Linked DNA regions of Homo sapiens: region 1 is linked to region 2. The links come from fine-mapping of genetic effects on gene expression. A gene starts in region 2. The other region holds a variant in brackets. All regions are shown on one strand. Distances are between the middles of the regions. Region 1 overlaps NR1I2 (nuclear receptor subfamily 1 group I member 2). Region 2 holds the start of NR1I2 (nuclear receptor subfamily 1 group I member 2).

The links. PIP is the estimated chance that this variant, and not a neighbour inherited with it, causes the effect.
Region 1: its variant is the best candidate, but not a certain one, in a credible set for the expression of NR1I2 in whole blood (TOPMed, PIP 0.86).

Annotation. Positions count from the first base shown.
Region 1 is chr3:119,808,420-119,812,805 of GRCh38, reverse strand. It overlaps NR1I2 (nuclear receptor subfamily 1 group I member 2), which reads right to left. Exons shown (of 9, transcript NM_003889.4): 3 at 2,612-2,745; 4 at 1,080-1,267; 5 at 1-120. Among named protein-coding and RNA genes, the nearest start is that of NR1I2, 29 kb to the right of the region's middle. RefSeq lists enhancers at 2,570-2,629, 2,607-3,110 and a silencer at 2,840-3,099. The variant T/C (reference allele first, on the strand shown) is at 2,048.
Region 2 is chr3:119,779,597-119,783,982 of GRCh38, reverse strand. NR1I2 (nuclear receptor subfamily 1 group I member 2) reads right to left here and starts at 1,882. Exons shown (of 9, transcript NM_003889.4): 1 at 1,683-1,882.

The DNA of each region.
Region 1 (4,386 bases), 29 kb before region 2:
CAGAGAGACCTTCAAAGAGCACAGATCTTTCCGGACCTGGCTCCACTTGGCAGCTTCTTCCCTCGATGGGGCCTGCAGAGACTCTGGCAACTCGCAGCCACTGCTAAGCACCCCTGGCAGCTAGGACACATGCCAGGAGGTGGACAGAGGAGAGACAGCATGTGCTTTCATAGACAGGTCCCAACTCAGGCCCCAGCCAAACATGCACAGCCACAGTTGCAGCTCGAGAGGATGCACAAATGCAGGCATTCACACCCACATGCATGCGTGTGTCCTCACACATATACACACACAGCATTTGTTTCTTCTCTCTGGTGTTCTCTATCAGATGAAGGTGCTTTGGGGATCTATGAATTAATGGTCACACACATCCCTGCTTGGTTAAAATGGAGGGTAAGGGGGACTGCAACCATGGTGTGTCATCCCAAGCATTCCAGATGTTGGGCTCAGGAGACTCAGAAGGTTTAGGGTGCTATGGATGGGAAGAGCAGATCTGAGGTCACTGGGCTAATCCAGTTATTTGGGCTGTGAAGGGCCACTTGAGATATCTATCAGTGCAAAGGGGAAGGAGGGCACTTAGAGCACAGACATAGTTAATGTGCTGGGATCAAGAAACACCAGTTCACAAAAGTCACACCCCCAACAGGTCCTGATCCTGTCCTCATAAAGCCCCGAATGCCAGCAACACTGGGGAACTGCCTAGCTTTCCCTCCACTTATTGCTTAGACCCAGTTCCTACCTGCCTTAAAGGAGAGAGCAGTGATTTTTCAAACCTGAACCTGCAACAGAATCACCGGGGGGTCCTGCCCCTCCCTGGAGCTTCAGATTCAGGAGATCTGAGGTGACCTGAAAATCTGCATGCTGATGCTGCTGACCCAGGGACCACACTTTCAGAACCTTTGGGAATGAGACTAAGGCTTTGAGGAGCTAGCACAGATGCAGGACCAGCTCTCCAAATCTACCCTCCACCACTGATTAGCTGTGACCTTGTATAAGTTTCTTATCCTTGGGGAACCTCAGTTTCTATGTGAGAATGAAGATGGCAGTGACACCTCGGGTCACTGTGCAGTTCCTCCTACCCGGAAATTCTTGAAATGGGAGAAGGTAGTGTCAAAGGTTTTCATCTGAGCGTCCATCAGCTCCCTGATCATCATCCGCTGCTCCTCTGTCAGCCCCTGCACTCCCAGTGGCTGAGTCCCTGTCCGTTCACTTTTCTTCCGCTTGATCAAGGCCCGCCTCTCCTCCACGGCCTCGTCGGACATGATCACTGCAGGGACAGTGAGGCTGGCTCAGGCACACGTGCCCCTGGTGAGCCTCCAGCCCCCTGGAGAGCCACTGTGTAACCCTCTCAAGGCAGCAGAAGCCGTTAGGCAAAAGAGAAAGTAATGGTGACAAGCAATTCTCCCCTGTCTGGACTCAAGAGGCCTGTGGGCTCTTCTGGAGAAACACTTGGGTGAGGACAGAGATGAGGTGAGGCTGGTGTTTTGCCCTCTGCAGTGGAGTTTGTGAGGACACTGTGGGGCCCTGGCAAGAGCACGGGCTTCAGAATCCAAAGGCGCTGGGTTTGCATGAAAGCTTTGCCACTTACTACCTGTGACCCCAAGCAACCTCCTTAACCTCTCCTGCCTCCAGGTTTCTCCTTTGTGATCCGGAGAAACCGTGTTTACCTCGCACCGCTGTTAAATGAGACCTTGCATGTAGGGTGCCTAATATAGTTCCTGGTACATAAGAGATGTTCAGTAAATGGCATCTACAATTATCATTTTCTGGTGAATTATATACCAAGACTCTTCAGAGGTGTCTGGGTCTCCAAGACCCTAGAGAGCTGGGCTACAGCTTAGCAAGAAATAGCAACTCCAGAGACTTCTTATATAGCCCAGAGCCTTAGGGTCTTCTGTGGATTTCTGGAGCCCACTCATGTGTGTAGAACAAAGCTATGAGGTCCTTGGTGGGGAGAGATCAAGAATGCCTGCCAGCAGCCTAGAGAACTTGTCCTTGAAAGAAGCAGCTTTGGGTCCCTTTGTGTTCCATGGAGACAAATATGCAC[T/C]AGAAACACCTAGCCTTTTCCGCATGAGCCTTAATCTCATAGTGACCTAGGAGCACAAATATATCAAAGTTAAATAGGTAGAATGAGAACACCTCATGTCACCTGTCTGCAAACAGTTCCCCTATAAAGATCCAGGTCTGGGGCAGCTGATGGGGCTAGCACCTAGAAGGCCCCGGGTCCTATCACCCATGTGGCTCCTGCTTCCCTCCCCCAGATTCACACTCCTACCCGCAAATGTGGTTTCAAACCATTACAACAATTATGAAGGGGACAAAAAGAATGATGCAGGAGCAACTGAGGGGAGACAGAGGGCACGCCCTGTCCAGGGCTGCCCAGCACACATCCCAGGGCAGAGATTACCGACTCCCTCCATCTCCCAGAGGGCCGACTGCAAGCGCTCCCCCAGGTGGCTGCCTGTTGCACACGGACACCAGCTCACATGTGCACGTGTGTTCACGCGCACACTCGGCGCGCATCTCCACACAAGCATGCCCACACCCACGGCACGTCCTTACTCAGAGCCGTGCACCCCGGCGCCGGCCCGCCCGCGCGCCCACTGCTCACTCTCCTTCTTCATGCCGCTCTCCAGGCACTTGCGCAGGCGGCAGGCCTGGCACTGTCGCCGGGTCTTCCGGGTGATCTCGCAGGCGCCCTTCCGGAAGGGGCACCTCAGCCGGGCGTTGCGTTTCATGGCCCTCCTGTGAGAGAATGGGGAGCAGAAGGGGGGATGCACGGGTGCCCGGGCCCTCGGCCTGGGGCTCCGGGCCATACCACCTCCCTCCCCAGCCCCTACCGACTCGGGGAGGGGGACACTAGCCTTTGCGTCCCAGCTGGGTCAGGCTTTATGGGAAGGGTGTAGGTGGGAGTCCCTAGAGGTCCAGGACTCAGCTAGAGGGGGCAGAGCCGGGGAGGAGACCTTTTCTGGCCATTCCGGCAGGAAATGGGACACGTGCTTTTCGCTGGCGCGGGCAGCCCCAAAACCACTTTCAGGGACACTTCCTCTCCAGGCCCATCCTCAGCGCCTTCCCTTCTTCCTGAAACACCTGTCCCCTTCTCTTTCACAGCCTTGTTACCAGAAAGTTTCCATGGAGATGGGCCTCTTCCTCGATTTCCCCTCCTTAAGGGAGGGAGCTGAGGAAACCTGACCCCAGGAGGGTAAGAAACCAGAGAAGCCCGCCCCACCCCCCCGCCTTCCCCCCCGCCTTCCCCCCACCCCCCGCCGCCTTCTCCAGCTCCCCTTCCAGACTGGGCGGCCAGGGAGGAAGGGGTGAACTATGGGGAAGTTCTTATACCCTACGGGGCAGCGACTTCCCCATGGCAGAGTGGATTCCCCTCGTTGACCTAGGGGGCAAAGAGGTCGAGCGCCTGGAACAGCAGAGCGTGCAGGCGGGACCCACGGGCCCGCACACCCCTCTCTGCGGTGCGCAGAGAGGCAATGGGGCAGATGCCTTTTGGAGACTCTGGTACAAGATCTCCTCCTCCCAGCCCGGAAGTCCTGCCTGTCCCACAAAAGACACGGTCAGTGCAGTCCTACCTTTACTTTCCCCATCTCCACAGCTGGATGGAAAGAAACAATCTCTCCCTTGGCTCTGGCCTCTGATTCTGGTCCAGAGTGGAAACTGAGGGAAGGCTGGCCCAGGAGCATGGAACAGCCAGGTAGGGCTGCAGAGGTCCCCGAGGGCAGGCCTGGGAAGCTGAGCCAAGCCCGCAGTGACCTGGCAGGTTTGAGCTTGGAGGCCTCGGGCCTCGGACCAGTGACCAGCCCAGGGGCATGTTCTTCACAGATGCCATCCCTGCCTTTTGCCTTCCCAACTGGCCTGGGTAAGAAAACTCTGATGCTACATCAAAGTCCACTGAGAATGGGTAAAAGATGAAACCGGGGCTCACATTATTTAAAGGTATGCTATGTATCAGATGCTAGGCTAGGTATTTTGCAGTTTTGTAAATTTAGTTCTAAAACCCTGTGAAACTCATAATCTCATCTGCCTAGCACAGATGAGGGAGACTGAGGCTTGGAGACGATGGATCCCCAGCTGTCCTCCAGGTACATGACAAGCTGAAATTTGAATCCAGGTCTGCCTGATACTGGATTTAGCTTTTGCCCACTACAACATGTTGCCTTTTTCTGAGAGTCCCAGGAATAGTACCCAAATGAGGAAGGGAGAGCAGAAGATTCCTGCATGCTGAGGCAGGATGCACGAACACTGCTTGGGCAGCCTCTTCTGTGCCAGCAGCATCTGGAGCTGGTGCAGACATCCACCCTCTTCCACACAGTCAAGTGGCGTGTGCCCAGCTCAGGGACATACCTGCTGCTCTTTGCTAGTGACTAGTTCAGGCAT
Region 2 (4,386 bases):
TATCGAAAAGAAAACGGCTAAATAAAAGAAGTGTACACTGTGAAATATGACGTAGCAGTTAAAATAAATGAAGTAGAGCTCTATACAGATATGGAAAGTCTCCAAGTCTTGCTATTGAGTGGAAAAACAGAATTAGAACAACATGGCAACAGATAGGTTTAATAGTCCATCTATGCATAGATGAACACACACACAGACACAATGGTCTGGCAGTAAATATATCACACTAAGTACTTTTGGGGAAACTGGAGATTAGGATTGACAGAATGGCCAAAGGTGAATTTAGGTTTATCTATACTGCTTTCTCATTTTCAAGGAGCATGAAATCATGTATTACTTTATAATTTAAAAAGTTATTACCTAAAAAACCTAGTCTAGTCAGTTTTGTGGTTGTCTTGGGTTTATTCCATAATAATTTTGGAACAAGTTGACAGCTTTTAGATCAGGAGTTGGCAAACTTTTTCTGTTAAAGGCCAGATAGTTAATATTTTAGGCTTTGTGGGCCATACTGTCTCTTTCGCAATTGGTCAATTTTGCTGACTCAATGAATCAGCTATAGCAGGCACTATTCCTCTCCCACATGGCCTCTAATGATATGGCCAGAGTTGAAAGGATGTTGTAGGGCAAAAACAGCCATATACAATACATAACGAATGGGCATGGCTGTGTTCCAATAAAGCTTCATTTATAAAAACAGCTGGTGGGCCAGAGTTAGCCTGTGAGCCATAGTTTGTCAACCCCAGGTTTAGACTTTTATGACATAACTAAAATATTTTTAAAGCGTATTTGTGTACCACAAAATACTTTTTCCCATTAACCAACTGATTAAATAAGCCTCTGAGGCCTCCCTTAGCATCCTTTCAACTCTGACCATATCATTAGAGGCCATGTGGGAGAGGAATAGTGCCTGCTATAGCTGATTCATTGAGTCAAGACTCAGTGGCCTCAGAGGTGTCTGTTGACCTGTCCTAGATATGGAGTGGCCTTAAAGCAGTGCCTCTGGCCATAGCTTCAGCCGAGCTGGGCTGTAAAGTGGAGAGAAGAAGGACCTGGTGGCACTGACCACATGCAGGCAAGACTCGGTTCTGTGGGACAAGGTGCCCTTTCAATAGTAGAGGTAGAAAACTCACTGGTTTGAAGCCAACTCAGCCGCAGCACTGTGCAGGGGTATGGCAGGTGCTCTGAGGGACCCCTCCTTGAAGTGGTGAGTCCTGGTGACTGTCATGCTGCTGTCCTTGGCCTCAGGGGGCTGCCAGCACTAACCCAGCAGGCCAAAAGGAATCAGGACTGAGTTGATCCCAGTTCCCATAGTCCCCAGCTCCCACAGTCCTTGGAGGTGGTATTTCCTGGGTCCAGGGACTCCAGCCCTGTAACAGGGAGCTGGTTGTATGTGTGACTTGTGGTAACTCATGCAGTAGTTAAGGCTTCTCCTGTGGTGATTTTTCTAGGAGGCTAGTGCAGGACCAGAGAGCATCAGTAATGGGGCTCAACATTAAGTGATTGTTTTCATGCTTTTTTTTTTCCACCCTAGAAATGAGGAGACAGCAGCAAGGCCAACATGATTCACGACCCACTATGATGCTGACCTCAAACAGAAGGTATATTTGTGTTCACACACATCTTTTGGCTGGAGCTGAAGGGCGGTCAGCCCCCAGCAAAAGAGAAAGAAAGAAAAACCATACCTGCTTGGTGGTAAGTTCTTTGCTCCGACTTCTCCCCTGGGGTCCACTTTGAACAATCCGGTGCAAAGGATCGATCAAGGAGTAGCTTTACCAAGGAGCCGCTGCCTTGTTCAGGACAGGAGTATTAGCTTATTCTCTTGCTTTTCTCACTGTGAACACTTGGCTTGCAGGCTGAGGCCGAGATTCCCACTGAAGTAAAGGCAGTGCTTCCTCTTCCCGTCCTAGTCATAGGTTATGATTTCCCCGGATATGAGACAATCTTGTCTCTCACCTATATTTCAGTCCAAGTCAGATGTAGGCACTAAGCGGCTCCATTGCCCCTCCTAAGTCCCAAGTCCAGCACTTGAACTAGCAAATGAAGAGATTACCGTATTTGTTCTCATTATGTTCTCCCTACTTTTTTCTTTCAGGTCTCTTCACTACAAAAACACAGGAAAAGGGGAAGAGAGTGGCAAATATCCGCTTTGTCTAAGTAATTCTGAGTGCATTTCATCAGTCTGAGGGTCTCTGTCCTTTACCACTAGGGGCAACATTAATTTGAACCTAGATCTCCTTATACTTCCTCCTTTGTTGAAACCACCTCCCTGGATAGTGTTACTTGATGTGAAAGTGAGCAAAGTATTGATTTATGACGGTGCCAATCACCAGCATGGTTATGTAAGAGGGGGGCAGGCACACAGGGAGAGGGAAAGGGTGTGAGATGAGGGGGCTGAGCACAGTTCTCGAGAATGTGACCCCACCACTTTGATCTCAGAACAGAAGGCTGACCAGGAGTGGGGAGGATGGACCAGCTGAGGGCTCTTTCCTCTCCCGGGTCCTGCCAGAGGGGAGCTGAAGAGTCCTCACTCTTCAGCCTCAACCTTCTTATTCCCTAGCAGCAGGTGCTCCCAAGTGAACAGAATCAACAAAAGCCGAATGTGGTGGATACCAGGATGTGTTTCTTCTACTTGCTTTGTTTATAAAGATGCTTTATGGCAGGTGAGGGGAGTGGAAGTAACTGCTCCTACCTAAAAGGCAAACAAGTACAAGCCTCTGGCAACAGTAAAGCAGGGGCATGGGCCCCAACAAGAGAGGGAGAGGGAGACCACGATTGAGCAAACAGGTAGAAAAGAGAACCTGGGATTGCCAAAAAATGACCACAGTTGTCTTCAGGTGAACATTTGGACTTCCTTACATTTATTTATTGACTTAAGTTGTTATTATTTTGAAGTACATGCTTTAATCCAGCCCTGGTGAGAAAAGCCAGAATATCTAAGTATGATTTGTTTGTTTTGTTTTTAATTGGTTTCTTCTCTATCCAATTTGCACTTCCCAAGGGATGAGAAAGACTTGAGGCTGGGATTTCCTAGGGGTTGACATTTCTCAAGTGGATGCTTGCCTTGCTGTTTTCAACCAAGCGCAGAATGTAAGGTGCTTACACAGCTCACTGCTGGGGACTTACTGCCAGCAGTGGGGACTGGGACCCACAGCCATAGAGCTCTGTCCTTTTTCCAGTCACATTTCTGATTATCCACATGGGATTCTGCTAGGGCTAGGAGGTATTGGATTACAAATCCCACTGGACAGAAAGTTGACTTGGGCCTTAGGCAGGGAGGACCTAGAGTAAGTGAAATATTGAATGTCATGAGGATATTGGAAAGAAAAAGAGTAAGTGAAATACTGGATTTCAGTACCAGTGGAAGTAGCCTGAACAGTGTGCTCTGGGGTAGGAGGACAGCATGGGGCTATATCTGGGGCCTGCAGGTCCCCTGAGAAACACAGATCAGAAGGCCATGGCTAAAGCCAAAGAGGGTGGGAAAGCTGGAAAGGGTTAAGAACTCACCCCAGGAAACTTATTTCCAAGATCAAAAGTAGGCCTTTCTGCACTGACAGGTATCTCCAAGTCCAGGGAAAAAAGGCATGACTCCAGCTCAGGTAGGCCACCTTGCCAGAAGTCCTTAGGTTATGGGTAACATACGTAGCTTTCATCATCTCTCAAATCCCTTCTGGCTCACAAGGGCCTGACCTTCTCTCTCTTAAAAATATAGTGAATTATTTACAGCAGAAACAGGAAACTAAGAACAGATTATGAAACCACTGAGGTAAAGGAAATATTCTCAGGTTTCTGCAGGGATCTTTGGGTCTCTTTTCCTTTGGGTCTGTGGTGTGAAGTCCCAGCTAGAAGACAGGAGAAGGCTGTAGGAGTGCCAGGCCTCTCTAGTCTAGCACTGCACTGTTAATATCAGACATGGCTCTATAGTGAAATGAGTTAAGAATACAGCCAGAAAATACACTCTCGTTCTTAAGGACAGCTTACTAATGCCCTCAGTTGAGGGCCAGAGTCACTCTCAAGCCCAGCTGGGAAGTCAGAGAAATTTGAGGCCTTGACCTCCATTCTATACTTTGCCTATTGCAGCAACCAGAAATGTAGAGCTCCTAAGAAACTCATCAGAGAAAAGCAGATCTGATCAGCCTGAAGAGTTTCTTTTTTTTTTTTGAGACAGTGTTTTGCTGTGTCACCCAGGCTGGAGTGCAGTGGCATGGTCATGGCTCACTGCAGCCTCAACCTCCTGGGCTAAAGCAATCCTCCCACCTCAGCATCCCAAATACCTGAGACTACAGGTGTGTGCCACCATGCTTGGCTAATTTTTTTTTTTGTTTTTCTTTTGTAGAGACGAGGTCTCATTATGTTGCCCAAGCTGGTCTCAAACTCTGGGGCTCAAGC